Regions from separate parts of the Homo sapiens genome. Here all the other regions are linked to region 2. Evidence: fine-mapped expression QTL. A gene starts in region 2. Each other region holds a variant in brackets. All regions are shown on one strand. Distances are between the middles of the regions.

The links. PIP is the estimated chance that this variant, and not a neighbour inherited with it, causes the effect. A credible set is the group of variants that fine-mapping cannot tell apart.
Region 1: its variant is the best candidate, but not a certain one, in a credible set for the expression of TCAF1 in whole blood (TOPMed, PIP 0.53).
Region 3: its variant is the best candidate, but not a certain one, in a credible set for the expression of TCAF1 in esophagus mucosa (GTEx, PIP 0.58).
Region 4: its variant is the best candidate, but not a certain one, in a credible set for the expression of TCAF1 in whole blood (INTERVAL, PIP 0.88).

Annotation. Positions count from the first base shown.
Region 1 is chr7:143,725,508-143,733,429 of GRCh38, forward strand. It overlaps TCAF2 (TRPM8 channel associated factor 2), which reads left to right. Exons shown (of 8, transcript NM_001363538.2): 8 at 1,906-4,903. The coding sequence ends at 2,160. Among named protein-coding and RNA genes, the nearest start is that of CTAGE6, 28 kb to the right of the region's middle. The variant T/C (reference allele first, on the strand shown) is at 3,311.
Region 2 is chr7:143,898,219-143,906,140 of GRCh38, forward strand. TCAF1 (TRPM8 channel associated factor 1) reads right to left here and starts at 3,958. Exons shown (of 9, transcript NM_014719.3): 1 at 3,743-3,958. It overlaps LOC105375549 (a long non-coding RNA gene), which reads left to right. Exons shown (of 3, transcript XR_007060574.1): 3 at 1-3,735. RefSeq lists enhancers at 2,926-3,463, 3,139-3,188, 7,531-7,922 and a silencer at 3,979-4,118.
Region 3 is chr7:143,734,993-143,742,914 of GRCh38, forward strand. No RefSeq gene overlaps it. Among named protein-coding and RNA genes, the nearest start is that of CTAGE6, 19 kb to the right of the region's middle. The variant A/G (reference allele first, on the strand shown) is at 4,296.
Region 4 is chr7:143,930,988-143,938,909 of GRCh38, forward strand. It overlaps OR2F2 (olfactory receptor family 2 subfamily F member 2), which reads left to right and starts at 4,246. Exons shown (of 1, transcript NM_001004685.1): 1 at 4,246-5,199. The coding sequence starts at 4,246. The coding sequence ends at 5,199. RefSeq lists an enhancer at 4,595-5,094. The variant G/A (reference allele first, on the strand shown) is at 4,637.

The DNA.
Region 1 (7,922 bases), 170 kb before region 2:
CATTTAAGTGAAGGACCTAGAACTTAAAATCAGGACGTAATGACAAGCCCCAGGCTTTCGCATTGCCATACCCTCTCTTAGTTTTTTGTGCCTTTCACTAATTTTCTGAAGAGTGAATGTGAGACAGTCCCAGTCAATGAGGTAACTTTGTATTGCATTCATTTCCATATCCTTAGATAGCCAGTCTGGGGGTATACGGGACCACTGACCACAATGGTAGGTTGCCCCTAAACTGTAAGTTTAAGCCCTAATTCTGTCCTAGTCTGCTACCTACTCACTGTGGAGCCCCGAATATCAGTTCTCAATAGCTCTAGAGAGACCAAGTCTGAGACTTGGCCTCAGGATAAACAGGCACCTTCTGACTCCTCTTCCTGCTAGAGGGCTTCTCCCCAGCATCCGTGCCACTGCTGCCTTAGCTCAGGCCTCGTTAGTCTTCCCTCAGTGTATTCCAGTAGCCTTCTAAGTTGTCCCAGCATCTTGCCTCAATCCTCTATGATCCATCTTCCTTACACTCCTTCCAAAATAATGTTAATACTCTGTCTATCAAATGCTTACAGTGTTCTCTAGCACATATAGGGTAAAGTCAAAGCTCATTAGCAGGGCATAGGAGGCCCTTCATGACCAGCCTCACCAGCACCTCTAGCTACATCTCCTACTGCTCTCACCTCCACATTTACCCTTCGGCATGCCAACCTGCTTATGGTTACGGACACAGCTTGCTGTTTTGGCTTCTGTGCCTCCCCTTGTTTGCTTCCTGCTGCTGAATCATGCTGGAACATCTTGTCCATTAGCTGTCAAGTCACCTGTCCAAATTCAGCTCTGTTGGCCCTTTCTCTCCTGGACATCGCCTCCTTGATAAACCAACAGTTTTAGCAATGTGTTTATTTACGTGTGTTTCTCCCTTTGGCCAGTGTTCTCTAGAAGGACAAGAGCTCTTAATGATGTTTGCCTAGCACAGTAGCTGGCGGTGTGTGGGTGTCTAATACATGTTAAACGTTTAATAAATGCTTAATTTATTGATGCATTGATTAATAAGTGTCAAAGAGCAAGCCAGTGAGAACAGATGAGCAATAATAAGGATACAACAGTGAGACTCTGAGGTAGGCTTGGCTTCGGTGGTGTTATCTGTCTTTGGGCTTTTATGAGCTACAGTCAGAGAATGCTCATCTATTAAAGGGAGAGTGGGGATGTGAAACCCCAGATCCCCGCTAACTGGAAATTTGTATAATCTTAGTAAACAAGGGCCTTCTGCCAAGGGCTTTCCGGAGAGCTGCCCCTTATGAAGTATGAGCCACTCTCATTAGCTGCCCCTTATGAAGTATGAGCCACTCTCATTTTTAGCCCCTCGAGACAGGCTGGATTTTTTTCTTTTTCTGCCCTAAATGCAGTGTTCTACAGAGCAATTTTGTATCATTGCAGATAGCCACAGGTCCAAGATGGCTATTAAAAAATAAGGATTATTATGATGTCTGGAAAGTATAGTATTGGAGGTTCGCAGCTTTTAGAATCTCAATAGGCCAGATATGTAGGAAGTGAGGGTTTCTCATCTCAGTCAGGCCCAAACCTGTCCTGATGCTGAGGAAAACACTTGAGATCTGGGAAGACAATTGTTTAAAGATACTAATAGTGGACATTTATTGAGTATTTACCTCTATTCAGACATTAGGTTTCCCCTGAGCACCCCCACTAGATTCAGGGGGTGTTGTTTTGTGGCCAAGAGGAGGAATGAGCCAACAAGATTGCATTATTGTGCAGGGGCAGAGTGGGGAGATAGGGGCACATACCCAGGATGAAGGTAACGATTGAGGGGAGGTGATCATGTGAATGAAATATATTTAAGAACGCACATGTCACGTCACTTTTGCAAACTTGACACCTCATTCTGTTCCTTCTTTCCCTTTTCAGCTCCAAGAGGCCTTCGGGTGGGAGCCATTCACCCAGCTCTTTGCTGAGTACCAGACCCTCTCTCACCTCCCCAAAGACAACACTGGCAGGATGAATCTATGGGTGAAGAAGTTCTCTGAAAAAGTGAAGAAGAATCTGGTTCCCTTCTTTGAGGCCTGGGGCTGGCCTATCCAGAAGGAGGTGGCTGACAGCCTGGCCTCCCTACCAGAGTGGCAGGAAAACCCCATGCAAGTGTACCTCCGTGCCAGGAAGTAAAGGATGCCCCACAAGGCGGGAGAGAAAAGGCAGGGTCACGCCATCAACTCCACCATGGGGCTTTGGCCGTGTGCTCAGTATCTGGAGCCTGAATCCCGCTTCCAAGCCTGACCACTAGATGGTGGCCACGGTCATAAGAAAAAATGGAACCCCTTTCTGTAAAAGGTGCCTTGTGCTTCTTTTTATTGTTTTTCTGCCTACGCTATTGCTTTCCCCAAGAGACTCACTTCACCTCTTAGTCTTCCAGAGAGGATCTTTCATCCTGCCATCCTGAGGCTTCTATTTTTGACCAATAGCTCTAAAGACCACGGGTTCCCATAACAACCTGATATCCCTTTCTCATCCCTGCCATCCCTGAATAAGGCTTCTAATTTATTATGCTTTAACAAGTTTTCAAATAGCAAGCGAGACACGCTGGAATAGTGGAGAGAGCCCCAAACCAGCTTTGGTTCTATGGAAAATCACTCCACCTCTCTGTGTTTCTGTCTTCACATCCATGACATGAGGATACAAATCTTTTCCTCACAAAGCTGTTGTTTGATTTCTCCTGGTCCCATAGTGGACTGTTAACGGTGTCCAGTCTAGCGTGCACATCCTGGGTGCTGAATCTCACTTCAGTGTTGACCCCCTTGGGGTTAGCATTCAGTCCTTGTATATTTAGAGAATGTCAATGTTTTCCCAGACATGGTATCAATAATGGTAGTTGTCAGCAGTATCTTAGCCCTTTCTACATTTTTTCTCCCACTTCTGGAAGGATTCTTGGGTATAACCTAACCCAAAGAAAAGTGGCATGTGCTGAAACTGAGTGTCACAGAGCTGTGAGGTTGGGTCTTTGGGATTAGCTTCATTTTCCAGGGTTTGCCCTTTGCCCTTCAACCAAAGGACAAAGTCATGTTAACAGCTGCTACTAAGTCTATATGCCCATTCGTTCATACCACAAAACAGGCATCTGACTCCTCTGGTCACCATGGAATCAAGGCACTGTCAAGTGGTGGGGGGTCCACAGGCACAGTGGGCTTCACTCTGGAACAGGATTACTGGGTGCAGCGGATGTAATCCTCACTTAATCAACCCACACCCCAGCATCCCCTGAGCTTTCTCTTAATCTCATTCTAGCCCATCTTGACTCTTCGGTTAGAGGGAGTTCTCA[T/C]TGGAGATTTGTCTCTGGGATTAATGAGTGTATGCCTAGCTACTTTCTCCAGTTTACTTTTAGACCATATTGTTGTTTGTTTTGAATATCATTCCTTAGGCTATGTTGAGAGTAGAGTGGCTTCCCATTAGGAGAACTAATTTAGGGCATGTCTTTTGCTGAATCCCGTCAGCATATTTAACAAATTCCCAATTCTAGATAATTTCCTTTTATTTCTCTAGTACCCTTTGCCAGGGGCTCTACACATCAAAGGTGTTCATGAAGTATTTGTCAAAGGAAAGAACAGTAATGACACCTAACACATAATGAGTGATTAGTATGTTCCAGGCATTGCGTGAGCTATTTACTGTGAGTGATTTAATGTTATCTTCCCAGCAGACCTCTGAGGTAGGTACTAGTATGATCCCCATTTCGTACATGAGGAAACTGACACTAAGGGACATAAAATAAGTTTTTTGAAGTCACAAAGTGAATAAAAGGAAGAACCAGGGTTTAATTGAAGCCCATAGCAATGAAAACATTGTGGAACTTATTCTTCATGAATGGTTTACAATTTAAACAAAATGTCACCTAGAAAATAGATGAAAATATGTTCAACCAGGTCTGGATTTTTCCAATGTTTACTACTGAATTTTCATTCAATAACAAGTTTAACTTCCAAAAAGGTGTTGGTATCTGATTTTCTGCCTGCCTCAGAATGTGATTTGTCTGCCTTTGGGTCATCCAGCCTTGGGTAGAGAAGGAATTTGAACTCAGGAAATTCAACTCCAGAACTGATGTTCTTTTTTTTTTTTCATTTAAGTTCTGGGATACATGTGCAGAACGTGCAGGTTTGTTACATAGGTATACATGTGCCATGGTGGTTTGCTGCACCTATCAATCCATCATCTAGATTTTAAGCTCTGCATGCATTAGATATTTGTCCTAATGCTCTCCCTCCCATTGCCCCCAACCTCCCGACAGGCCCCAGTGTGATGTTTCCCTCCCTGTGTCCATTTGTTCTCATTTTTCATCTCCCACTTATGAGTGAGAACATGTGTTGTTTGGTTTTCTGTTCCTGTGTTAGTTTGCTGAGAATTATGGCTTCCAGCTTCATCCATGTCCCTGCAAAGGACATGAACTCATTCTTTTTCATGGCTGCATGGTATTCAATGGTATATATGCCATATTTTCTTTATCCAGTCTATCATTGGTGGGCATTTGGGTTGGTTCCAAGTCTTTGCTATTGTAAATAATGCTGCAATAAAAGTATGTGTGCATGTGTCTTTATAGTAGAATGGTTTATAGTCCTTTGGGTGTATATCCAGTAATGGGATTGCTGGGTCAAATGGTATTTCTGGTTCTAGATCTTTGAGGAATCATCACATTGTCTTCCACAATGGTTGAACTAATTTACACTCCCAACAACAGTGTAAAAGCATTCCTGTTTCTCCACAGCCTCACCAACATCTGTTGTTTCCTGACTTTTTAATGATCGCCATTCTAACTGGCATGAGATGGTACCCCATTGTGGTTTTGATTTACATTTCCCTAATGACCAGTAATGATGAGCTTTTTTTCATGTTTATTGGCCACATAAATGTCTTCTTTTGAGAAGTGTCTGTTCATATCCTTTGCCCACTTTTTGATGTGTTTTTGTTGTTGTTGTAAATTTGTTTAAGTCCCTTGCAGATTCTGGATATCAGAACTTGTCAGATGGGTAGCTTGCAAAAATTTTCTCCCATTCTGTAGGTTGCAGAACTGGTGTTCTCAACAGTGATGTTAGGGTAAAATGATGGATACTGCTGGGTTTAATAGATTGCCCTAGAAACAGAGACAATGTCTGGCTTCTTACACACACACACACTTCCTGGTAGAAGTTGGAGCCTGTAGCTCCTTGTCTCTCATACAGAGAGACTGTGACTTTGCCTCTTGTTTTTAAGTTGATAGTTAATTGTAACTGCAGTATTCTCAGATTCTTTTGTCTATTCACAGAAACTAATTTGCTGCCAGTGATAGGGATGATCCATGATTTCTGAGACATTTACTTCCATAATTTCACAGTTCTAAGTCTAGAAAAATTATTAGAAGAAAATTATTGGATGGTCTTGGAACCAACCCAAAGAAAAAAACATGTCCTGTGAACAGTAGGATAGATACTGAATGTAGCTTGTCTCACTTTGGAACTAGTGCTTATAATTTCCCTTGGACTGTATATTTTTGTCCAATCACTACTGTACAGGACATGGGTTTGGTTTGCTTTTCCCTCCCATGAGCCACTCAATTGCTTTGCTAAAAGCCCCATCAGTTTTCCTTTGGTTTCCTTTGGTACACCAACATCAACACAGAGTCCACTTGGTTTGGAAGGGGTTGGCCCACACTGTTGGCAGGAGTGGGCACAGAATCCATGCTCATCTAATTGTCCATACCTTCCAACAAGGATTGGTTCAAGTGATGGGAAGGTGGCCCTTGCCAGGGTGATGAAGTGCATACGACAGACTTTTACTGGCTGTACTGGGAAGCATACATTTTCTTTGGTACTGGAGAATTGGTAATGACAGTGCCAAATGTTGTTTGTTATTGAAGCTAAGTGAAGGGGCTCTTGAAGGATCCTTATTCAACTTTTGCCTATGTTTAGAAATTTTGTAGTAAAATTGTAATGGTGTAAGTCTACTATTTATACCTATAGAAGTAAAAGACTTTTGCCAGGTGCAGTGGTTCACGCCTGTAATCCCAACACTTTGGCAGGCCGAGGCGGGTGGATCACGAGGTCAGGAGTTCGAGACCAGCCTGGCCAATATGGTGAAACCACATCTCTACTAAAAAAAATGCAGAATTAGCTGGGTGCAGTGGCTCATGCCTGTAGTCCCAGCTACTCAGGAGGCTGAGGCAGGAGAATCGCTGGAGGTTGCAGTGAGCTGAGATCGCGCCACTGCACTGTAGCCTGGACAATAGAGTGAGACTCCGTCCAAAAAAAAGAAAAAAGAAAAGAAAAAAAGAGAAGTAGAAGACTTGTTTTTTTTAAGTTTTGAAACAATTTCTTAGGGAGAGTAGGATTGAAAGAGTAGAGAAACAGGGGAGATAAAGACAGAGTAGGGTTTGGGCAGATTCCTGTTGTTTTTCTTATAAGCTCTTTGTTAGTAATTTAATATTGTATTTCTACCACATATGTTTTCTACCCTATGCAAGCATGACACCTTTTAAACAAGATAGATATAAACTGTATTAAAATTTACAACACAGCTTGCATGCCAACATAGTCTTCCATGATTTGGTCTCTGCGAGTGTTTCCAGATTTGCCTCCCACCTCTATCCCTTGCTTTCTTTATTCCAGCTGTGATGCACACATTTCAGCGTGAATGCGGCCCTCCTTCTCATTTCTACAGATTGTTCTGTGCTCCTGGGTCATTCCTTTCTTCCACCTGTCCTTCCCTCCACTTCACAATAGAATAGAGAAGTTTCTGATGTTTGGGCTTCCTTTTGGGTAGAACAACAACAAAAGTCAACTAGAAAAATGTCCTTTTTTAGAGTTATATTTTCAGAGTGAGGACTCATTTATCATTTATATTTATCATAAGAAATTAAAACATTTTCACTTTTTGTTTTTTCCTGTTAAATCTTTAAGTATCTTTAACCAGGACTTAATTAAACTTGAATGGTCTGCAATCTTTTTCAAATGTGAATAATTTCAATGTATATTTTCTCCATTTGCTAAATTTGGTAAAATAGTGTTTAGTGTTGTATTTTTAATAAAACAAAACCTGCCCTGTGGAGAAGGGACACACTTTGTGGACGTGCCATTTGGGTCACACACAAAGGTGGGCCACTGGGGTGCCACCACTGAGCCAGCCAGGATAGCAAGAGCGACATTCTCTAATTCACACAGAGGCATTTTATGAGCTAGTGGTGGCCTTGGAGAAGGGACGGCACTTCTCTATATTACTTTGGATTGGGGTATCAGTATTTTTAAGGTTTTCTTTTTTTCTTCAGCTCTTAACCCAGAGGTCATTTCCTCGAGCCGTGTCTCTAAGCCTCATGTTCCGATAAAACCTGTAACTTCCTTTATATATCAGTCATCACATTTGTAATTATTTGTTTAAAATCTCTCTTTCCCACTACATGGAAGCTTCATAGGGGCAGGGACTAGACCTACCCTATTCACAGCTGTATCTACAGCCCCAAGGGCAGGGCCTGTCACATATCAGTTTTGGTGTAGGGGTCTATTGTATTAACACATTACTAACAAGAGTGTATGATAATGGGAGAAGACTAGATGAGGATTTCCAACTATTGTATATGTTTGCTGTCTTTAGGCGGATCACCTGAGGTCTGGCGTTCCACACCAGCCTGGCCAACATGACAAAACCCTGTCTCTACTGAAAATACAAAAATTAACTGGGTGTGGTGGCACATGCCTGTAATTCCAGCTACTTGGGAATCTGAGGCAGGAGAATCACTTGAATCCGGGAGGCGGAGGTTGCCCTGAGCTGAGATCGTGCCACTGCACTCCAACCTGGGCAAAAGAGTGAGACTCTGTCTCAAAAAAAAAAAAAAGAAAAGAAAAAGAAAGAAGAAGAAGAAGAAAAGACCTCTGTTATTTATCCCTATTCAAGAAAATGGTTTCACTATTCCA
Region 2 (7,922 bases):
AAAGTAACTATAGCAAATGTCATTTTTAAGTTGACATAATGAAATATTTCTCATTATTATCTTAAGGACAAAACAAGATGCCCTTTATTACTTTTATTCAACAGTGTACTGGAGCTCCTAGTCATTGTCATAAGACAGAAAAAATAAATTGAAGGTATGAGAATTAGAAACGAATAAACAAAATTATCATTATTTTCGGATGATATGATTGCCTATGTAGCAAATCTGAAAGAAGCTACAGGTAAATTTAGAATTATTAATTTTCTCAAGTTTGATTGATATATAATTAATATATAAAAGGCAACTGAATTTCTGTATGCCAGCAACAATAAACTACAAAATATAACTTTTACAAAAGAAAATGCTTACAATAGCAGTAAAAATATGACGTGCCTAGAAATTTAACAAAAACTGAGCCAAAAGAAAACAATAAAAAATAGTACAAAACATTGAAGATGACTTAAATAGTGTCATATACCATGTTCATTGAGGAAAAGGGCCAATGTCTTAGAAATAATTTCTGCCCAAAATAATTTATAGAGTGCAATGGTTTGAATGTGTCCCTCAAAAAGCAGGTGTTGGAAACTTAATCCCCAATGCAATGGTGTTAAGAGGTGGGCTTAATGAGAGGCCATCAGGTCATGACAGCAGAGTGAATGAATTAATGCCATCACTGTAGGAGTGAGTTCATTATAAAAGGCGGCATTCACCCTCCTTTTACACTCTCTTTCAGCCTTTCTCTGCCTTTATGCCATGGAATGACACAGTAAGAAGGCTCTTTCTTGCCAGATGCCAGCCACTCAATCTTGGACTTCCCAGCCTCCAGAACTGTGAGCTGATAAATTTTTGTTCCTTATACATTACTCAGTCTCAGGTATTCTGCTATGGTAGCACAAAACAGACTAAGACACAGAGTTGATCCATTATCAATCAGAATTCCAACAGGTTTATTTGCTTGTTTGTTTCTTGTTTTGGAGAACTTGATAAGTTTATTTAAATATTTATATGGAAGGTCAAAGGTCCAAGTAAAGCTAAAACACTCTTAAAGAAGAAGAAACAGGTGATAGGACTTTTCCTACCAAATTTCAAGGCTTTTAATAAAACTATAGTGGTTAAAAATTATTTAGTATTGAGGCAGAGTTAGACAAATAGAAAATAAGAATGGGGGCTTAAAACGAATTCATGCTTATATGGAAATCCTGATTCATGCAAATCACTGGTGCTGGGGCAACAGATTATCCATATGGAATAAACAACATAAAAATCAGTTTCCATGTGGATTAAGACTAATTGCCAAAGGCAAAACTATAACACTTTTAGAAAACGATACACTAAAATTAATCTATGATCTTGAGAAAACAATTATCAAACAAGAAAAGCTATAAAAGAAAGTACTACTAACTTGAAATTAAATTCAAAACTTAGATTCATTGATAGAAACAGAGAAAGAAACAGATATAAAGACATAGAGAGAAAGAAAACCTCAAAAGCAAATTGGAAAGATGTCTGTGGCATATATAGCTAACAATTACTGCTTCGTACCCAGATTATATAAAGAAAGCATTCCAATGAGTCAATAAAAAAGGTAAACAAACAATCCAATACAAAAATGAAAGAGACAGGAATCAGAATTTCACAAAGAGAAAGCACTGATCAACATATAAAAAGTCAATCTCATTAGTTATGGAAAATGCTAGTTAAAATCACAGTTAAATGCTATTTCATACCTGCCAGACTGACAAAAAATGTAATTTTACAAGACTAAGCTGTGGCAAGCATGTAGAGCAACAAGAATGCTCATCCACTGCTGGAGGGAGTGCAAACTGGTTTAACACTTTGGAAAGTTTAGAAATGACCCAATAAAATTGAATACACATAAATCTTATAACTCCGCAATTCTACTCCCAGCTATATACTCTAGGGAAGCTCCCACACAAGTGTACTTGAATATTAGAGGACATGGGCAGGCTTTAAAGTGGCCCCGATAATCCCTGCCTCCAGGTGTTCATGTCCTTGTGTCACCCCCTTCCCTTCAGTGTGAGTTGGGCCTAGGGACTCACTTCTAATGAATATAAAATGGCAAAAATAATGGGATGTCGCTTCTGAGGTTACAGAAAGAATCTGACTTCTGTCTTTCTCTTTTTCTCTGTGGGAGCCTTCTCTCTGGGGGGAGTAAGCTGCCATGTTGCAACCATTCTTTATACAGAGGCCCATGTGGCAAAGAACTGATGTGTACAGCCAGGGTCAGTGAGGCCAATCGGCCTGCCAGCAGTCATGTGAGTAAGCCTGGGAGAGGTCCTCGACCCTACGCCTAGCCTTGAGATGACTGAGGCCCAGTCAATACCTTGATTGTTGATACAGCTTGTGAGAGACCCTGAGTCAGAGACTCCCAGCTAAGCCCCTCCTGGATTCCTGATCACAGAAACTGTAAGATAGGAGGTAACAGGACTTGTTTTGTTTGTTCGCTTTGGTTTGAAGCTGCTAGGTGTTGGGGTAATTTGTTACATAGCTTATAGATAAATCATACACCTCCAAAAGTAGAAACAATCCAATGTCCATCAGCAGTAGAATGGATAAATTATGTACATTTACACCTTAAATGACGAAAACGAAAATGGAAGGAAGCATGAAAGATGAATCTATAAAACTTAAGAATACGTACAGGATAATGTCATTAATATAATGTCATTATAATGAGAAAGCCAATACATATGTTTTAGGAATACACACACAAATATGGTAAAACTAAAAAGAAAAGCAAGGGATTCATTAAATTAAGACAAAAATCACGAAAGATGTCACATCTCAGAGAATGGAGGAGAATGGACCATGGGCATCAGTTGGGACTCATGGGCTTCTAAGGTACTGTGACGCCCTATTTCTTGACCCAAGGAGATGGTCAGGCATTCGTTTCATTATTTTTTAGACCATTCTGAGATATTTCATTTACTTTTTATTCAACATTTTAAAACAAAGTATTGAAACCAATTCATCAACAAATCACTAGTTTGGAGGATGAAAGTGATGGACCGATGGTTGGCTGGTCAGCTAGACAGACACATTCTGTCCTTTACGTCTAGTTCGAGCTGTACTTCTTCTAAATTTCCATGATTATCCAATTGGCAAAGATCTTTTTCTCCTGTACTTAAGGCCTTCTTCCGTTGCAGGTTGGGCCAAACTAGCGGCCAGCTCTCGGCTGTTTACCAGGGAACTGTATCACCCAGCACTTGCTGCTTCAGGCCAAATGCATTCCAGACTAACATTCAGCCTGAATCCCCGCGCCGCTCTCACCGCCACCCCTCCCCAGGTCCCTTCCCCCACCACAAACCCACACTGCGCCCGTGGGCGCCTAGAGCACTGGGGTGGATGAGAACTTCCACCTGGGCTTAACGGAGACAAGCTAGCCTAGAAGAATGCAAGCCCCCAGCTGGCGAGATCAAATCGCCTCGAGGGTTCCTGCTAGCTCAGATCTTAATGGCTCCTTGCGGAGCAAAAAACAAATCCTACGAAAATAGGGGGGGTCATCGCCTCCTGCCCAGCAGAGGGCATAACAATGCGGCGAGAATGAAATAGGCACCGAGCTGCAGAGAAAAATCATCAACGGGGTAGAGACGAAGGAAGGGATCCTCGGTGGAACGGCTCTATCACCTGGGGGCGCGCGCAGAGGCCGCAATCCACGCCCGGCCCTCCCCAGACGCTAAACGTCGCACCCCGCCCACCGCTCCCCGCCCCGGACACTAACCCGGGGCCCAGGCCTCGGTCACCGCGGGCCTCTCCTGGTCCAGAGTCTACGCTGAACCCCACTCACTGTTTGCCCCGCTGTTCCCTGCAGCGCGGGTTCGGGGCAGTAGCAACCTGCTAGGAGCGGGAGGCGGTTGTTCCCAGGAGGAAGCAGCTTCTCCGCCCAGGAGGCAAAGGGCAGCGGGCTCGAAACTACAGGACTTGGAAAGTCTTAGGCGGAGACTGCGGGGGTGGGGGGTGGTGAGGAGGGGCCTTCCAGGGAGCTGATTGGTCGACGCGGACGGGGGCGGGACTTGGCCGGCGCCGTCCCTCCCCTAGACCTCAGAGGCCCTGCCCGCAGATGTGGCGCCAAATCCCGGATGCAGGCCTAGGCGCCAGCCCAGGAATATAGGGAGCAAATTGTTAAGAACAAAACAAAACAAAACAAAAGTGAGAATACTTCTGAACAAGTGACGGCCTTGATAAATAGCGAGAGATGTTTATATAAAATAATACAGGACTATTTTTAAGGACGAGTGAAATCTATCGGTTCTAGCTATAGTTTTTAATTAAAAAAGCAAGTTGTATTAAAATGGAGAGTAGGATCTCTCTTTCCCCCTCCCCTCCCCTCCCCTCCCCTCCCCTCCCCTCCCCTCCCCTCCAGGGGGAGGGTCTGCTTCTGCCACCCAGGCTGGAGTGCAGTGGTGCCATCACAGCTCACTGCAGCTTCAACCTCCCAGGCTCAAGCGATCCTTCCACCTCAGAGGCTGGGACCACAAGTGCGCCGCCACCACGCCCAGCTAACTTTTTGATTTTTTGTTAGAGACAGGGTTTTACTTTGTTGCCCAGGCTGGTCTCGAACGCCAGGGCTCAAGTGATCCTCCCGCCTCGGCCTCCCAAAGTGCTGGGATCACAGGCCTGAGCCACTGCATCAGCTTTAGCATTACATTCGTGTATGAAGAAGACATGCTGCATGTGCTTCTATAAGAGGCGGGGCTAACGGTGGAGAAATTGTCTATTGATTCTTACCTTCACAACCACTGAATTGTTTTTTTTTAAACCAATACATTGTTTTTATAAGTTTAATAAAACAGTAAGGCGTTGAGAATGTTACTAACCAATCAACAGATGACAGATATTGGGCATGAGGGAGGAAAGAAAGAAAGGAGTAGCAGGGAAAAAGCCTGGACTTTGAAGCCACCACATCCTCTGCTTACAAGTTGGGCAGTGTATTCATTGCTAAGGCTGCTGTGATAAATTTTCACACATTTAGTGGCTTAAAACAACACAGATTTACTACTATCTTCCAGGACTGTAGGTCCTGGAAGTCCAGCACAGGTCTCACTGGGCTATCATCCAGGTGTAGGCAGGGATGTGTTTCTCTTTGCAGGATCTAGGGACAAATCTATTTTCCTTGCTTTTTCCAGCTTCCAGAGGCTCCCGCATTCCCTGGCTTGCAGCCCTTTCCTTCATCTTCAAAGTCAGCAATCTCATGGCTCCAGCCTCTGCTTCTGTGTCACATCTCCTTCTTTGAGTCTCCTGCTTCCTTCTTTCACTTAGAAGGACCTTGTGATTACATTGTGCCTATCCAGATAATCTAGATAATTTCCCATCTCAAGGTCAGCTAATTAGCAGCCTTCATTCTGTCTGCAACCTTAATTCTCCCTTGCCATGTAGCATTGCGTATCACAAATTCTGGGAATTAGGATCTGGACATCTGTATTAATCCATTTTCACACTGCAGATAAAGACATTCCCCAGACTGGGCAATTTACAAAAGAAAGAGGTTTAATTGGACTCACAGTTTCACGTGGTTGGGGAGGCCTCACAATCATGGCAGAAGGCAAGGAGAAGCAAGTCACATCTTATGTGGATGGCGGCAGGCAAAGAGACAGCTTGTTCAGGGAAACTGCCGTTTTTAAAACCATCGGATCTCCTGCGACCTCTCCACTATCATGAGAACGGTTGGGGAAAGACCCACCCCCATGATTCAATCATCTCCCACCAGATCCCTCCCATAACACGTGGGAATTATGGGAGCTGCAAGATGAGATTTGGGTGGGGGCACATAGCCAAACCATATCAACATCTTTAGGGAGCTATTTTTCTGCCTATCACAGAGGGCTTGTTAACTTCTATCTTAGTGTTTTCATCTGTAACATTGGGGATAATAATTGTCTCTACTTCATGGAATTTTTATGAAGATTAAATGACTTAATACAGATAAAGCTCTTAAAGCAGTGTCTGGCACATGGAAAACCCTATGTGAATGTTCACCATTACCAGAGAATGGACAGATCCTTCCAGACTTCTTCCATGATTTCCTTGGCCCTTGTCTCCTTTGCTCTTCAAATCTCCAAGTTGTGTGTTCTCTCCTCATTTCCCTGCAAATCTAGTCTCCCCTCAAAACTACATAGGCCTAGCCTGAGATTGGAGGGCAGACATGGATGGGACTTTACTTCTAAGAGATTTCTAGAAGTGAATGCACCCAGCTACTAGCACAGAGGCATAGTTTATGACTACTATGGTGAAAGGAAAAACCAGCGTCTGGATGTGTTTGTGCGGTTAAATGGGGTGTCTGGGGGGAAACTGTGGGGGCAGGTGGGTGTTTGGGGATTGTAGACTGAGTGTGTCTGAAAGACCAGGATTGCTTGCAGTTACCTCTCTTTCTCATTCTCTCATTTCTCATTCTCTCTGCCAAGACAGCTGCACTTCTCTCTTGCCAGATCCCTTCTCCCCTCAGAAGCTGACAGTCAACAGGACATAAGCTTGCCCACCCCCACTCCCTCTCCAGGCACACAAGCAAAACCCACCATTTTTAGTTGCTGTTGTTTTTGCTGTGCAATTGGTCATAGAATTTCAGAGCTACAACATCTCATCCACTCTCCTCCTTTATATTAATACAAAAAGGAACACTGAAATGCAAGCAGCAGAAGGGGTTTGCAGCAGGTAGAGGTGGAGCATGACCTTGGAATTCAGATGCCAGCGCTCTTGCAGTACAAAGTCCTTGAGGCTGAGATCACTGGCTAGTCCTCTCGGCGCCTCATGTTTCTGTGTGTGTGTGTGTGTGTGTGTGTGTGTGTGTGTGTGTGTGTGTGTGTTTGTGTGTGTATATGTTTTAGGGTATGGAAGGACACGGAGCCAGTGCAGCAGAGAAAACCCCTTCACCAGCAAGCACACCAAGACTCCTGAACCTGGGCCAGTGCGAGTTCTGGGCCAGCCAAGGCCAGGAGTTTCCATTTCACTTGCCTCCTCCCGCTACTGGCCACCCCTCAGCTCCTCCAACCCCCTCACCCACCACTCCCCCACCCCTTTCCTCTCCTTCTCAGGCTTGCTCTTTGTGGACTGGCTGTGATCCTGGGAGGAAAGGAGGAGAGAGGGGAGCCCTGCCAGACTGCAAGCAGAGTGCTGACAGCCCCTAGGAGTTTAAGATGACCTTTCTTACACGTCATCGCATGTTTTATAGCTCTGAAGAGCAGCAGTCTTTTTGGTGGCTAGTAAGTGCAGTACTAGACAACAAGGCAAGTGGTCTGTTGGTAAGAGTTCCTGCCCACGATGCTCTCTACCTGTAAGGAATTAAATTATCTCGGGGATGAAGGTGAACAATATGTAAGAGAGAAGATGGACAGAAAGACCCAAGGGAAATGAGCAGTAAAAGGGAAGCAGGGTTTAGAATTGAGGGAGACCTGTGAGATTGGGGCAGAAAGGGAAAACAGGTCAAACAGGCTCAGAAGGGAAGTGGAGGGGTTTTGCTTTTGAGAAAGGTGCTGTAGGGAGGAGAGACACAGCAGTGGGAGTGAAGGAACCCACAGTGCAGGAAGAAGGTCTTATTTATATTAGAGTGAGGTCATTGGCAAGAGAGAGAGAGAGACAGAGACAGAGACAGAATCCATCTGATTCCCTTCCTTCTGGCTTGACTGGAAGCTGGAAAGGATGGATGGAGAGGGTTGGTGCTGAATTCTGAAACCAGCCCTCGGTAACATGGCCAGCAAATTGCTCTCAGCTTTATGAAATTTGTAGTCTTGTCTATAGTTTAGGAATCTAAACCTGAACCGGTTCTCGAAAACATGGCAATGTAATCTTCTCCATTTCCCAACCTCCCTGCCATCTCTCAGTCCGGTAGCTAGGATGTGTAATTCCTTGCCTCAGGTACTTTTCCAATGCAGAAAGCAAAGCGTCAGGGCCACTTCACGGATGTGTGA
Region 3 (7,922 bases), 160 kb before region 2:
CTTAATAGCCCTAAAACAACTAACTGTCTGTATTAGTTCATTTTCACATTGCTATGAAGAAATACCCAAGACTGAGTAATTTATAAAGGAAAGACGTTTAGTTGGCTCACAATTTTGCAAGCCTGGGGCAGTCTCAGGAAACTTACAATCATCGCGAAAAGGAAAGCAAGCATGTCTTACATGGTGGCAGGTGAGTGATGAGAGAGCAAGAGAGAAACTACCAAACACTTAATAAAACATCGGATCTCTTCAGAACTCACTCACTATCACGAGAACAGCATGGGGGGGAACTGGCCCCCATGATCCAATCACCTCCAACCAGCTCTCTCCCTCAACACCTAGGTATTACAATTCAAGGTGATATTTGGGTGGGGACACAAAGCCTGGCCATATCACTCTCTGTTGCTAAAAAAGAAAAACTTAGGTGGAGATTTGGAAATTAAAGTCCAGTGTAATTGGCCCCACTGTGGAGAACCAAGCCATGCAAGGACACTCACAATGATGAAAAAAAAATTCTCAGCACTTAGGTAAGGCACTCAGTTGGAACAATGCTTTCCTGGGTCTGCAGACTGGAACCTAAGCAGCTGTGTGCTTCACTTAGATAAATACATATTCAATGCATGAGACTGATTCACCCTCACAAATGATACTTCTTTTAATAGGATCATGCAGTCTACTCCCAGCCACATAGTTTTTGTCTTAAATAACAAATCATTTGAACAGGTAGTTAAAATGAGGACCATTCAGGTTTGAATTAGTAAAGTTACATATGGGAAGATTCCGTGAATTATTGTAGCAGACGGGAGTTATAACAAAAAATATATTGTGCATTTATATAATTTCATAATCCCATTCAAGCAATGACCCTAAAAATCTATTTTCCAGACCACATTTACTCCCAAGGATATCAGTGTAAGTTAGGTGAATCATCAATAAACCGCTTCTTTTCAGAAACTGTTTTAAGTGCTTTTATATTTATTTATGCTCACAACATTCCTACAGAGTAAGTACAATTACACTCTTCATTTTGCTGAGAACTAGTAAGCTGTGAAGCCACATTTCCAACCCTAGAAGTTGGAGCCCACACTCTCAGCCAGCATACTGTCCTATGGAGTTACTGGATCTGCCATCGCCTGTAACTCTGCCTGCATTAGACTATGTGTCTGAATACTGAATCACAGAGCAAGCAGAGTCCAACTGCCAAAACCAATCAGGTTATTCCTAGTTACACAAAAAGCAGTTACTTTACAGTAAAGGTCATTCATCCAAGGAACACTTCGCTCAGGATATACAATTGATTTTTTTTCCAATACCAAGACCGTGTCCAACCTAGACTGGAGGGTTTTAAAGATTCTGCGATTCAAAATAAGAGCTTGATGGAGTCTTAGAGGAAGCAGGTCTTACACTCAAGGTTTTTATCCTTTTTAAGGATGCCCCAACTCCTCTCATTATGTCTAAAAGCATTGGATAAGGGACCACATACGTTCCCATAGGTTATTAGCTCCAATAGCTGTAAAATCTAAATTCCCAACAAACTGGAGACATTTCAAGAGGCAGAAATCACCCTAGAATACTTTAGGGAAATAATAATGGTCACTTTTAAGTTTTAAAGAAGTGGGTTTTTATTGTTGTTGTTGGTGGTGGTGGTTTTGTTTGTTTTTGAGATGGAGTCTCGCTCTGTTGCCCAGGCTGGAGTGCAGTCATGAAATCTCAACTCACTGCAATCTCTGCCTTCTGCATTCAAGTGATTCTCCTGCCTGAGCCTCCCAAATAGCTGGGTCAACAAGTGTTTGCCACCATGCCCAGCTAATTTTTGTATTTTTAGTAGATACAGGGTTTGGCCATGTTGGTCTCGAACTCCTGCCTCACATGATCCACCTAGCCTCGGCCTCCCAGAGTGCTGGGATTGCCGGCATGAGCAACAGCGACCAGCCTTAAAGATGACCCTACCTTTATTTAAAATGACCCTGCTTGTATTTCCTCCCCTGAATGCCTTAAAGTCCCTGACTTATTTGAAAACTTAGTATTTCGAAACAGTTTCAGAAAAAATTAAAGCCTTAGTGGTTGGTCACACTAAATGGGACCGTCAAAGCTCCTACTGCTCACAAATATTGTTAAAATGGAATAACACGCACTGCTAAAGGGAATTAAAGTCACTCCTATCTTGAATGAACCCTCGACATTTTAAGTTCTGTGTCCTCTGCATAGAATCTTTGTTCTTTGTCTCTCCCTTGTGGCCATTTAGAAAACCTTTCAGCTCCTGATCACCAGTTGAAACAGTGAAATTGTTCCCATTGTGGCAAACACAGTCTCTTGCCGTGGTTTTAATTTAAAAGAGATATTTATGTTACCCTTCCCATGAAGCAATTGACTGGTCAATATGCTCTCTACTTGTGTTATCCATAAAAATTTCCCAAACCAATTTACTTTTAGTGTCAGAAGATGCAACCCAACAATATTCTTTTTTTAATGAAATACACTGTGCTCATAAAAAATGTATCTAAAAGCATATGTACAATTTAAATAATAATTAGAAAGGGAACAATCAGATCAGCAACAGATTAAGAAATAGAATGTTGCCAATAATTGAAGTCCTCCATATGTTCCTCCAAGTTCATTGTCCCTCTCCTACCACCAGATGGAACACTAATCTGACTTCTGTGATCATTCCTTTTGCTCCTTTAGTTTTACTACCTATGTGCACAAACTTAAACTACATAGTTTAGTTTTAACTTGTTTTAAACTGTATAAGAATACAAGAAAGTTATATTATATGTAATCTTTTATGACTTGCTTCTTTAGTGCAATACTGTGACATCGTCTGTGTTGATTTGTGTAGCTCTACTTCATTTTTCTTTCTGCCTAATACTCAGTTATATAACTATAATACAATCAGTTAATCTATTTTGCTGCTGATTGGTTTTTGATTGTTTTTATTTGGGGCCTATCTGATACTACAAACATCCTTTACATGTATATCTGTGCGAGAGTTTCTCTGGCATACCCTAGGAAAGGAATTGCTGTATCGTAGAATATGCATAGCTTCAACCTTCTTAGATAAAACCAAGCTGTAGATAAAGACAAGTCAAAGATAAATCATATCACTTAGAGTATATGAGTTTCCATTGCTCTAGATCCTTAGGAACACTTGATATTATGAAATACTTTTTTTTCCAAAGTGATGAGTGCATAGTAATATATTATTGTGGTTTTAATTTGCATTTTCCTCATTACTAATGATGTTAAGCAGCTTTGCATATATTAACTAAACATTTGATTTTTGCTTTTATTTTGAAGTGCTCATTCCATTTTCTTGTGTATTTTTCTATCGGATTTTCTGTATGTCACAATGTTTTAGATATATAAACTTGGTCAGTTACATGTGTGGCCAACAGCTTTTCCCACTCTGGGCCAATTTTCACTCTTCTTGTGGTGTATTTTAATAAACACAACTTCTTAATTTTAAAGTAGTCAAAGTTATTAATCTTTTTTATGATTAATACTATTTGTACCATGAGTAAAAAAAATTGTTTACCCAAATTCCACAAAGAGATTTTTCTATATTATCTTCAAAGAGTTGTATAAATTTTTAAGTTTAAATGAGTTTTGGGCATAGTGAACTAGGAATACAACTGTAGTTTTTTAAAATATGGATTCCTAATTATAGCACTGTTCATTGAAAGGTTCACTCTTTCTGCCTCATCTACGGGGCCAAAAGTCTGGATCTGTGTGGATCTCTTTGCAGGCTCTCTATTCTTTTCTATTTTTTTTCTTCATCTCTATGCCAATGCTATACTATTGTAATATCTTCATAATAAATCTTGCTAATTATTCTACCTTAGTTTTTGTCAAGAACACACAATTATTCTTGGTTGTTTGTGCTTCCATTTAAATTTTTAAACCAGCTTGTTGCATTCCACTAAAACAAGTGAGTAAACAACTACAATAATGAAAAACCCTGTTGAGATTTTGATTCTAAGTAATTTTTTAAGAATATGCATCAATTAGTGGAGACTTGAATTTTTTTTTTTTTTTGAGGTGGAGTCTCGCTCTGTCGCCCAGGCTGGAGTGCAGTGGCACGATCTTGGCTCACTGCAACCTCCACCTCCTGGGTTCAAGTGATTCTCCTGCCTCAGCCTCCCGAGTAGCTGGGACTACAGGTACCCACCACCATGCCCAGCTAATTTTTGTATTTTTAGTATAGACAAGGTTTCACCATATTGGCCAGGCTGGTCTTCAACTCCTGACCTTGTGATCCACCCACCTCGGCCTCCCAAAGTGTTGGGATTACAGGC[A/G]TGAGCCACTGTGCCCGGCCGAGAATTGATTTTTTAAAAATTAGTTTTCCAGAGGGGAGGAGGCAAAGCAAGATAGCGGAATAGAAGGCTCCATTGATAGTCTGCCCTGCCACCACAAGGACACCAGGTTAACAACTATCTACACAGAAAAAATACCTTCATACGAACCAAAAATCCGGTGAGCCCTCATAGTACCTGGTTTTAACTTCATATGGCTGAAACAAGCACTGAAGAGATAGAAAAAAAACAGTCCTAAATCAAGTATGCCACCCCTCCTGCACCCTTCAGCAATCATGGCGTGGTGCAGAGAGCGTCTCTAGGTGCTGGGGAAGGAAGAATACAGCAATTGTGAGGCATTGAACTCAGTGCTGTCTTGTTAGAGCAGAAAGGAAAACCAGACCAAACTCAGCTGACACCCACCCACAGAGGGAGCATTTAAACCAGGCCTAGCCAGAGGAGAATCACTGATTCCAACAGTTAGAACTTGAGTGCCTGCAAACTTCACCACCGAGGGCTATAACACTCTGTATCTCCAAGTAAACTTGAAAGGCAGTCTGGGCCATAAAGACTGAAACTCTTAGGTGAGTCCTGGTGCTGAACTAGGCCCAGAGACAGTGAACTGGGACTGCATGTGGCGTACAGAAACACTAGCTGGGGCAGCTAAGGGAGTGCTGGCTTCAACCCTCCCATAAACCCAGGCTGCACAACTTATGGCTCGGAAAGACCTCTCTTTCTTCCAGTTGAAGGTAGGAAAAGGGAGAGTGGGAAAGACTTTGTGATGCACCTAGGATACCAGCTCAGCTACAACAAAACAGGGCAACAGTCAGAGTCACGAGGTCCCCACTGCAGGCCCTAGCTTCCAGATGACATTTCTACACACACCCTGGGCCAGAAGGGAACCTGCTGCCTTGAAAGAAAGGACCCAGTCCTGGCAGCATTTATCGCCTGCTAACTGAAGAGCCCTTGGGCCCTGAATAACCAGCAGCAATACCCAAGTACTACACCAAGGGCCTTGGGTGAGCCTTTGAGGCTTGCTGGCTTCAGGTGAGACTCAGGATATTACTAGCTGCGGTGGCTCTGGGGCAAAACTTCTGCTTGAGAAAAGCAGAGGAAAAAGTAAAGGGAACTTTGTTTTGCACCTTAGGTACCAGCATGGCCACAGAAGGATAAAGAACCAGTCAGGCTCTCGGGGTCCCCAATTCTAGGACTTGACTCTTGGACAGCATTTCTGGACCTGCCCTGGGCCAGAGGAGCACCCACTGCCCTAACATGGGAGTCCCAGGACAGGTAGCATTTATGACAAGCTGACTTAAGAGATCTTGGGCTTTAAGGGAACTTTGGTGGTAGTCTGGCAGTACTCCTTGTGGCCTGGGTGGTGGTGGCTATGGGGTGAGGCTCCTCTGCCTTTGGAAAGGGGAGGCAAGAGTGGGAAGGACTGCATCTAGTGGTTAGAGTGCCAGTTCAGCTGCAATACAAGAGAGCACCAGGTAGACATCTAAGGGTTTTTACTCTAGTCCCTGACTCCCAGATGGCATTCTGGACCCACTTCTGGGGCTTAGGGGAGCTTGCTGCCCTGAAGGGAAGGGCATAGGCCTGATTGGCTTTGGCATTTACTGATTGTAGAGTCCCAAGGCCTTGAGGTAATGTAGGCAGTAGCCAGGGAGTGGTTACAGCAGACCTTGGGTGAGACCCAGTAAGCACTGGGCTGGCTTCAGGTCTAACCCAGAACAGTCATAGTGGTGGTGGCCAAAGGGGTGCTTGTGCCACTCCGCCCCCAGCTTTAGGTGGCACAGAACAGAGAGAGAGAAATTCTGTACATTTGGGAGAAAGTAAGAAAAGAGAATAAGAATTTCTGCCTGGTAATCTAGAGAATTCTCCTGGATCTTGTCCAAGACCATCAAGGTGGTACTTGTACAAGTCTGCAAGAACCATGATGTTACTGGGTTTGAGATGCCCCTCTAAAGTAGATACAGTTTGGATCACAAGACTCAAGTCCTTTCAGGCATCTGGAAAGCCTTCCCAAAAAGGACAGCTACAAGCAAACCCAGACATTGAAGACGACAATAAATGCCTAACTCTTCAATGCCCAGACAATGAAGAACATCCACTAGCATCAACACCATCCAGGAAAACATGACCTCACCAAACAAACTAAATAAGGCACCCAGGGCCAATTCTGGAGAAACAGAGATACGTAAACTTTCAAACACAGAAATCAAGATAGCTGTGTTGAGAAAACTCAAAGAAATTCAAGATAACACAGAGAAAGAATTCAGAATTCTATCAGATAAATTTAACAAAGAGATTGAAATAACTAAAAAGAATCAAGCAGAAATTCTGGAGCTGAGAAATGCAATTGACATACTGAAGAATGCATCAGGGTCTTTTAATAGCAGAATTGAGCAAGCAGAATAAAGAGCTAATAAACTTGAAGTCAGGTTATCTTGAAAAAACAAGACCCACTCATCTGTTGCCTACAAGAAACACACTTCACCTATAAAGACACACATAGACTGAAAATAAGGGGATGGAAAAAGATATTCTATGCCAATGGAAGCCAAAAAAAGAGAAGAATTCACTATACTTATATCAGACAAAATAGATTTTAAGACAAAAACTATAAGAAGGGACAAAGAAGGACACTATATAATAACGGAGGGCTCGATTCAGCAAGAGGATGTAACAATTTTAAATATGTATGCACCCAACACTGGAGCACCCAGATATATAAAGCAAATATTATTAGAGCTAAAGAGAGAGATATGCCCCAGTGTAGTAATAGCCGGAGACTTCAACACCCTACTTTTAGCATTGGACAGATCTTCCAGACAGAAATCAACAAAAAAAAATCAGACTTAATCTGCACTATAGACCAAATGAACCTATTTACCCAGTAGTCATTTAGGAGGAGATTGTTCAGTTTCCATGTAGTAGTGTGGTTTTGAGTGAGTTTCTTAATCCTGAGTTCTAATTTGATTGTCCTGTGGTCTGAGAGACTGTTTGTTATGATTTCTATTCTTTTGCATTTGCTGAGGAGTGTTTTACTTCCAATTATGTGGTCAATTTTAGAATAAGTGCAATGTGGTGCTGAGAAGAATATATATTCTGTTGATTTGGGGTAGACAGTTCTGTAGATGTCTATTTGGTCCAGAGCTGAGTTCAAGTCCTGAATATCCTTGTTAATTTTCTGTCTTGTTGATCTGTTTAATATCCACAGTAGGGTGTTAAAGTCTCCCACTATTATTGTGTGGGTGTCTAAGTCTCTTTGTAGGTGTCTGAGAACTTGCTTTATGAATCTGGGTGCTCCTGTATTGGTGTATGTATATTTAGGATAGTTAGCTCTTCTTGTTGCATTGATCTTTTTACCATTATGTAATGCCCATCTTTGGTTCTTTTGACCTTTGTTGGTTTACAGTCTGTTTTATCAGAGACTAGGATTGCAATCCCTGCTTCTTTTTTGCTTTCCTTTTTTCTGGGTAGCTTCCTCCATCCCTTTATTTTGAGCCTATGTGTGTCTTTGCAAGTGAGATGGGTCTCCTGAATACAGCATACCACTGGGTCTTGACTCTATCCAATTTGTCAGTCTGTGTCTTTTAATTGAGGTATTTAGCTCATTTACATTTAAGG
Region 4 (7,922 bases), 33 kb after region 2:
GTTAGGTCTATTTGGTCTAAAGTGTTTTTCATGTCTAATGTTTCCTCATTAATTTTCTGTCTAAATGATTCTTCCATTGTTGAACCTAGTGTATTGAAGTCCCCTACTGTTATTGTGTTGCCGTCTATCTCTCACTTCAGATCCTTTAATATTTGTTTTATTTATTTAAGTGCTCCAATGTTGGCTGCATATATATTTATAATATTTATATCTTCTTGATGAATTGATCCTTTTATCATTATATAATGCTTTTCTTTGTCTTTTTTTTTTTTTGAGATGGAGTCTCGCGCTGTCACCAAGGCTGGAGTGCAATGGCGCAATCTGGGCTCACTGCAATCTCCGCCTCCCAGGCTCAAGTGATTTTCCTGCTTCAGCCTCCTGAGTAGCTGGGATCACAGGCACATGCCACTGTGCCCAGCTAATGTTTGTATTTTTAGTAGAGATGGGGTTTCACCATGTTGCCCAGGCTCGTCTTGAGCTCCTGATCTCAGGTGATCCACCCGCCTCAGCCTCCCAAAGTGCTGGGATTACAGGCGTGAGCCACCGCACCTGGCCTTCTTTTTTTTATAGTTTTGACTTAAAATCTGTTCTTCTCATATATGTATAGCTACCCTCGCTGTATTTTGTTTTCTATTTGTGTGGATTATCTTTTCTCATCTCTTCCCTTTCAGTCCATGTGTATCCTTAAAAGTGAGCAGAGTCTCTTGTAGGCAGCGTATAGTTGAGTCTTCTTTTTTTTTTTTAATCCATTCAGCTACTCTATGTCTTTTTTATTAGAGAATTTAGTCCATTTTCATTTGAAGTAATTATTGATAGGTATGACTTACTACTACCATTTGTTAATTGTTTTCTGGTTTTTGTTTTTTTCTGGTTCTACTTTTTTTTTTTTTCTTCCTCTCTCTCTTGCTGTCTTCCTTTGTGGTTTGATGATTTTCTGTAGTGGTATGTTTTGAATCAATTCTATTTTTGTTTTGTGCTTTGACTAAATATTTTTGCTTTGTGGTTACCAAGATGCTTACATAAAATATCTTACAGTTAAAACAGCCTATTTCAAGCTGATAACCACTTAACTTTGATTGCATCCAACAACTTTACACTTTTAGTCCCCCAGCCACATTTTATGTTTTTGATATTGAAATTTACCATTACTTTTTTTTTTTTGATACCATGTTTCGCTCTTGTCATCCAGGCTGGAGTACAATGGTATGATCTCAGCTCACTGCAACCTCTGCCTCCTGGGTTCAAGCAATTCTCCTCCTGTGCCAGCCTTCCAAGTAGCTGGGTTTACAGGTGCCTGCCACCATGCCCAGCTAATTTTTGTATTTTTAGTAGAGACAGGGTTTCCCCATGTTGGCCAGGCTGGTCTCAAACTCCTGACCCTCAAATGATCCACATGCCTCAGCCTCCCAAAGTGTTAGGATTACAGATGTCAGCCACTATGCCCGGCCCAGAATTTACCATTGCTTTTAATGTGTATCTTTCAGTAACTTATTTTAGCTGTAGTTGTTATTAGTAATTTTGTCTTTTAATACTTGTACTAGGGATATAATTGCTTTATACACCATCATTACAGTCCTAGAGTATTCTGAGTACGGCTCTGTTTTACTTATATTACTGAATTTTCTATTTTTGTAAGTTATATGTTATTAATTAGTAATATTTTGCTTCAGATTGAATAACTTTCTTTAATAATTCTTATAAGGCAGACCTAGTGGTGATGAGCTCCCTTAGCCTTTGTTTGTCTGGGAAAGTTTTTATTTCTTTTTTATTTCTGAAATGCAGGTATTTCTGGGTAAAGTATTTTTGATTGGCAAGTTTTTTACTTTCAGCATTTTGACTATATCATCCCAATCTTTCCTGGCCTGCAGGATTTCTGCTGAGAAATCGGCTAAGAGTTGTATTGAAACTCCTTTTTATGTGATGTGTTTCTTATCTCTTGATCCTCTTAGAATCCTTTTCTTTTTGTCTTTGAGTTTCAATAGTTTGATTATTATGTGTTTTGCTGAACTCCTTTTTGGGTTGAATTTGATTGGAGATCTTTGAACTTCTTGTGCCTGGATGTTGGTTTCTGTCTCCAGATTAGGGAATTTTTCAGCCATTATTTCTTTAAATATGGTTTTTGCCCCTTTTTCTCCTTCTCCTCCTTCTGCAACTCCTATTATATAAAGGATTGGTCTCCCATAATTCCTACAGGCTTTCTTCGTTCTTTTTCATTCTTTTGTCTGTTTGCCCCTCTGACTGGATAATTTCAAATGTTCTTTCAGCTCACTGATATTTCTTCTGCTTGAGTCTGCCATTGAAACTTTTAATTGAATTTTTCAATCCAGTCTTTTTATTCTTCATCTCTAGGATTTCTATTTGGTTCTTTTTTATTGTTTCTATTTATTTGTAAAACTCCTCATCTTGTTTGTGTATTTTTTTCCAAATTTTTTAAAATTTCTATTGGTACTTTTTTTTAACTTAAGAGGATTATTCTGAATTTTTTGTCACCCCATAAATCTCCATTTCTTTAGGGTCCATTATTAGCCCTTTATTAGTTTCTTTTGGAGGTGTCATAACTCCCCAGTGCTTTGTAATCCTTGTGTCTTTGCATTGTTATCTTTTCATTTGAAGAGATACCCCCTCCTTCTGGCCTTTACAGGTGTTCTTTGGCAGGGCTAGACCTATACTATTTAGTGTAGCCTGTAATTCTTCAAGGGCCAGCTGGTAATGGCCCTGGGCAAGCAAAGCTAACTGTGGATTTTCTACCTGCCTGGGATGCTGTCTTTGCTCTGATATTGGCTGGGGCTATTGACTGGGCCCTGCTGTCTGGCAAGACCACTGGCTGAGCTCTGTTATCACACAGAGCTACTGACTGCGTACTGCAATGGCTTCTGGTCAGACTAGTCACAGAATTTATTCCCTGGCTGGAAAATTATGCTTTCTGGGATTTGCAGTTGGGCAGGGCTGTAGGCTGAACTCCAAAGTTAGGAGAAGTTGCTGCTTAGAATGATTGAGGCCAGAGGCTACACTCAGAAAAACACAATTGATGGTTGCTTCCCTGTTAAGGTGGAGCTTCCTTGTAGGGTTTCTTCCCTTTAAGATGGGCTTTTGGCTGAATTGAGTTTGACTTCCCAGGTCAAACAGTTCTAGCCCTCATGCTTCTCTGAAAGGCATGTAGATGTCCTTGATGGGGCCTTTTAGCTGAGTAGAGCCATGGATTGACTTCCTGGGTTAAGCAGGTCTACCTCATGTGTGTTTCTGAAATGGGTGGAGGTGTGTATCTCCTTGTCTTGGCAGAGGTCACTGGTGTGGGCTCTGAGACTGGACATGGGGACTAGCTATCTAAGGCCTCAAGCTAGGTTGTACTTCCCACCATGCTTCTGAAGATGACCAGCTTAGCTTTGTAAATGAACTATGAAGTTGACTAGTGTCTCAGATTGGGCACCACAGCTAGCAAGAACACAGAGGTAATGCCATGATCTGTGTGCTGGTCACTAAGACCTCTGCCTCCTTTCTTTGTTTTTACTTGACACCAGGTAGTCTAGCTATGCTGTTACCCCCAGTGTTCTCCATGAGATAAGCCCAGAGTGGGATTTCTGAGAAGCATCTTGGAAAACTAGAGATGCTGAATGACTGCCTCTAGTTTTCCTTTCCTCCTGTAAAAACCATGGGCCCAGGAAAACCCTCTTTGTCTGGTGTTGTGTTGACTTTGGCAGGAGGCAAGGTGGCAGGGTTGAAGTGAAACTATGCTTCTTAGCCTTCTAATTCAATTTTCATTCCACGTACCTTGTGGTTGTCTCATGTTAGTGTCCAAGTAGTGGAGTTTTAAAAGAGATATTCTGGTCTGGGGATAGTTGCTAGTTGAATGTTCTGTGGAGAAGAGTAGAGCCTGGGACTTTCTATTCTTCCTTTTTGCTGACATCATCAGAAAACAAACTCCCTGCCCTGGATACTGAGGTAAGCTAGTAAAGAGGTAAAGCTTCCAAAAATTGCACTGCATTATCTACAGGCTTTAACTGGCTTATTTGAGTCCACATCATGTCCTTATGAAAGCACTACTGTCTCTCTAATGCAAAGTAAATATAGTGTATGTTGGAAACAAGCCTGTCATCTTGGCCTTGTGAATTATCTAAAATATTTGGCCAAGGCTGGAATGTCGTATACAGTATGCATTCCTAAGAAGTTATTCTTATGATTCTTTGATTCAACAGCTTCTGTTTTTTTCTGACTCTTTCTACAGATTAATATTCCTCACATTTTTAAATGGAAATAGATAACCAGACGTGGGTGAGAGAATTTATTCTCCTTGGCTTATCCAGTGACTGGTGCACTCAGATATCCCTGTTTTCCCTGTTCTTGGTCACATACCTCATGACAGTGCTGGGGAACTGTCTCATTGTCCTTCTGATCAGACTGGACAGCCGACTCCACACTCCCATGTATTTCTTTCTCACCAACCTCTCCCTTGTCGATGTCTCCTATGCCACAAGCGTAGTCCCCCAGCTGCTGGCACATTTTCTTGCAGAACATAAAGCCATCCCATTCCAGAGCTGTGCAGCCCAGTTATTTTTCTCCCTGGCCTTGGGTGGGATTGAGTTTGTTCTCCTGGCAGTGATGGCCTATGACCGCCATGTGGCTGTGTCTGACCGCCTGC[G/A]ATACTCGGCCATCATGCATGGAGGGCTGTGTGCTAGGTTGGCCATCACATCCTGGGTCAGTGGCTCCATCAACTCTCTTGTGCAGACTGCTATCACCTTTCAGCTGCCCATGTGCACTAACAAGTTTATTGATCACATATCCTGTGAACTCCTAGCTGTGGTCAGGCTGGCTTGTGTGGACACCTCCTCCAATGAGGCTGCCATCATGGTGTCTAGCATTGTTCTTCTGATGACACCTTTCTGCCTGGTTCTGTTGTCCTACATCCGGATCATCTCCACCATCCTAAAGATCCAGTCCAGAGAAGGAAGAAAGAAAGCCTTCCACACGTGTGCCTCTCACCTCACGGTGGTTGCCCTGTGCTACGGCACAACGATTTTCACTTACATCCAGCCCCACTCTGGTCCCTCAGTCCTTCAAGAGAAGCTGATCTCTGTCTTCTATGCCATTGTTATGCCTCTGCTGAACCCTGTGATTTATAGTCTAAGGAATAAAGAGGTGAAGGGGGCCTGGCATAAACTATTAGAGAAATTCTCTGGGTTAACATCCAAGCTGGGAACTTGACTCATGAACATTACTTTAAGAAGAAGCTTTGCCTCATTTTTCTCCACCCAGCTCAGATATGGCAGGGATAAACTATGTTGCTCTGGCAACCGGGAAGGAGATGATGTAACATGTACTGGGGATGTTATGTAGGAGGCTGAGTGGTTGAGTTGGATGGGGTGTGGGATGTGGGGATAATTTTATATCCCAGCAGTATGATTAGTGGAGTTAGCTACTGCTGTAACAGAACCTTCCACAATTTCTCAATCTCCACTCTTATGTTCTGATAAAAACTGAAAAAAAGTACTACTTACTGTTTTGGTTTGTCACATTATTTATAACCGTAGACCTATTCATACATCTTACCTTGGACCAGTGGTTCTTATTTATTGACATTTTGTAAAGGTTGTAGTGTTTGCATTGAAAACAAAATGCATTTTCACATTTGAAGACTCACTGAAAATAATTGGTTGTTTATGTAGCCACATACAATAATTATGAATCAACATTCCGAGAAGGATGTTGTTTGTCAAGGCTTATTAAAATGATTTTGTGCAGGACCTTCGAAATGTGAACAAAATGTCTTTCTCTGAGTGCTGGAAGTAATTCAGTGAAGAAATATCAATGAAAGTTCTTATTTTGCCCTGATAGGGTTAAAAAATGGTTGTTTGTAATGAAGACTATTATTAGCCAAGGAAAATTTAAGTTTCAGGCATTACTCACAGCACTCAGTTTGAGAGAAATTTTACTGTATAAGAGGTATCATTTAACATATTAAAATTGTCCAATCTCAGGAAAATTCACAAACTCCATTTTTTAATGTTTAGAAACAAAATAAGCAATAAATTATGAGATAATTTATAAAACATCAAAGACATAGTTAATCTAAGAAATGACACTCTTCAGCCAATACCAATGAAAGAGAAGACAATTTTAACATGAATTTTGAGGAGTCAGGATAGATGCCTCACCTGTGCAAATGTTACCTTCAAGCTTCCATATTAAGGACTTTTCTTATTTCTTCTCACACATACAGTAGGGCACTAGTCAACTTTCTAAACCTAGTCATCTGAGCTCGAGAGTGGGCCTCACTGCTGCTAAAATTTATAAATAATACAAAAGAAGAAGAAACAAATATATAAGGTAAAGAAGGGGAAAGAGGAGAAAAATTATGATAGTAGCTGATCATCTCACTTGCTTGAAGTAACCTAAGTCGTGTCTCTTCTTTCAGTAAGTTAATTTTCTGTTCTTCCATTGGTGACCACGTTGTCACAGATCCTCAGGTATTTATGAAGGTTCATATAATCCAAAGCCCTTTTGAAATATCAGTTTTACCTTAATTACTATTCTATCTTAAATTTTGCAAGGTAGGCAAGCATCCCCAAAAATGTCAATGGCAGCAAACTAAAATTTCTATTGGTGTTAACTTAAGCATTATCAATGGAGTGTCTAGTACGTGTCAGTGACAATGAATGGTTCTGGAGACTCTGTAGTGAATATGATACAATTCTGGGTTGCATAGCAGGGATGATGGATAATGAAGCAATTATAAAGTAATGTTGTAAATATTACAGATAGAGTAAGCCCATCAGGGGTGTCACAAAAGTCTTCCTGTTAAAAGAAAACAACATAAAATGTCTAGATTGAGACCAGGAAAGTGAGAGCAAGTTATCCAGATGAAAAGGAACTGGAGGAAATGAAAAACCTGAGCCAAAGTGCAGAGGGCGAGACTTGAGTATCCAGAAATATCTGGAAGCTGCACTTGTAGGGCAGAGAAGAGTGAGGAAGTAGTGAGAAGTAGTGAGGATGAAGTGGATGGGTAGGTATGCATTGGTTCATGGCGGGCACTGAATGCCACATTATCTTTCAACTATATCCTAATAGCAATGGGAAGTCAGTAATGATTTTTTTTTTTGACAGACTTTTGCTGTGTCTCCCAGGCTAGAGTGCAGTGGCGCGATCTCGGCTCACTGGAACCTCCGCCTCCTGGGTTCACGCCATTCTCCTGCCTCAGCCTCCCTAGTAGCTGGGACTGCAGTTGCCTGCCACCACGCCAAGCTAATTTTTTGTATTTTTAGTAGAGATGGGATTTCACAGTGTTAGCCAGGATGGTCTCGATCTCCTGACCTCGTGATCCACCTGCCTAGGCCTCCCAAAGTGCTGGGATTACAGGCGTGAGCCACTGCGCCCGGCCAGAAGTCAGTAATGATTTTTAAGCAGAAGAATGGCTTGATAAATTTTACATTTCTGAAATATCACTGGCAAATGAGATAGAGGAATAAAAAATTGGAAGCAAGAAGTCAATCTAGTGGGCTGCTCCATTAATGCCATTTAGACACTAGAGGAATCTGAACTAAGGGTGTGACAGTCGTCTTAGGCCTGCAGGGCTGAGCTCAGCAGGCTGGGTGAGCATAGACAGGTCAGTTCACGGTAAATATCAAATGGAAAAATGTGGAGATCACTGAGTTTTGAAGCATAGGTGCAGATAAAAGAGGAAATTGCATCATTATCATTATAGTAAAAATTTCAAGGCTGCTTACCCAGACATTAGGCCTTGATGACCTAGTTCACTAATTAGAAAAGTTATTGCTGTATACGGTGTAATGTTGAAGATACTGACATGAATGACTCACTCTGTGTGGGCTTCAAGGATCATTGACTTATGATGAGCTTTAATGAAATACAACGTGTCCCCTGCCTATATTTCAACCTATTCTTTGCACTACTTGTTTCTTGGATCAAGA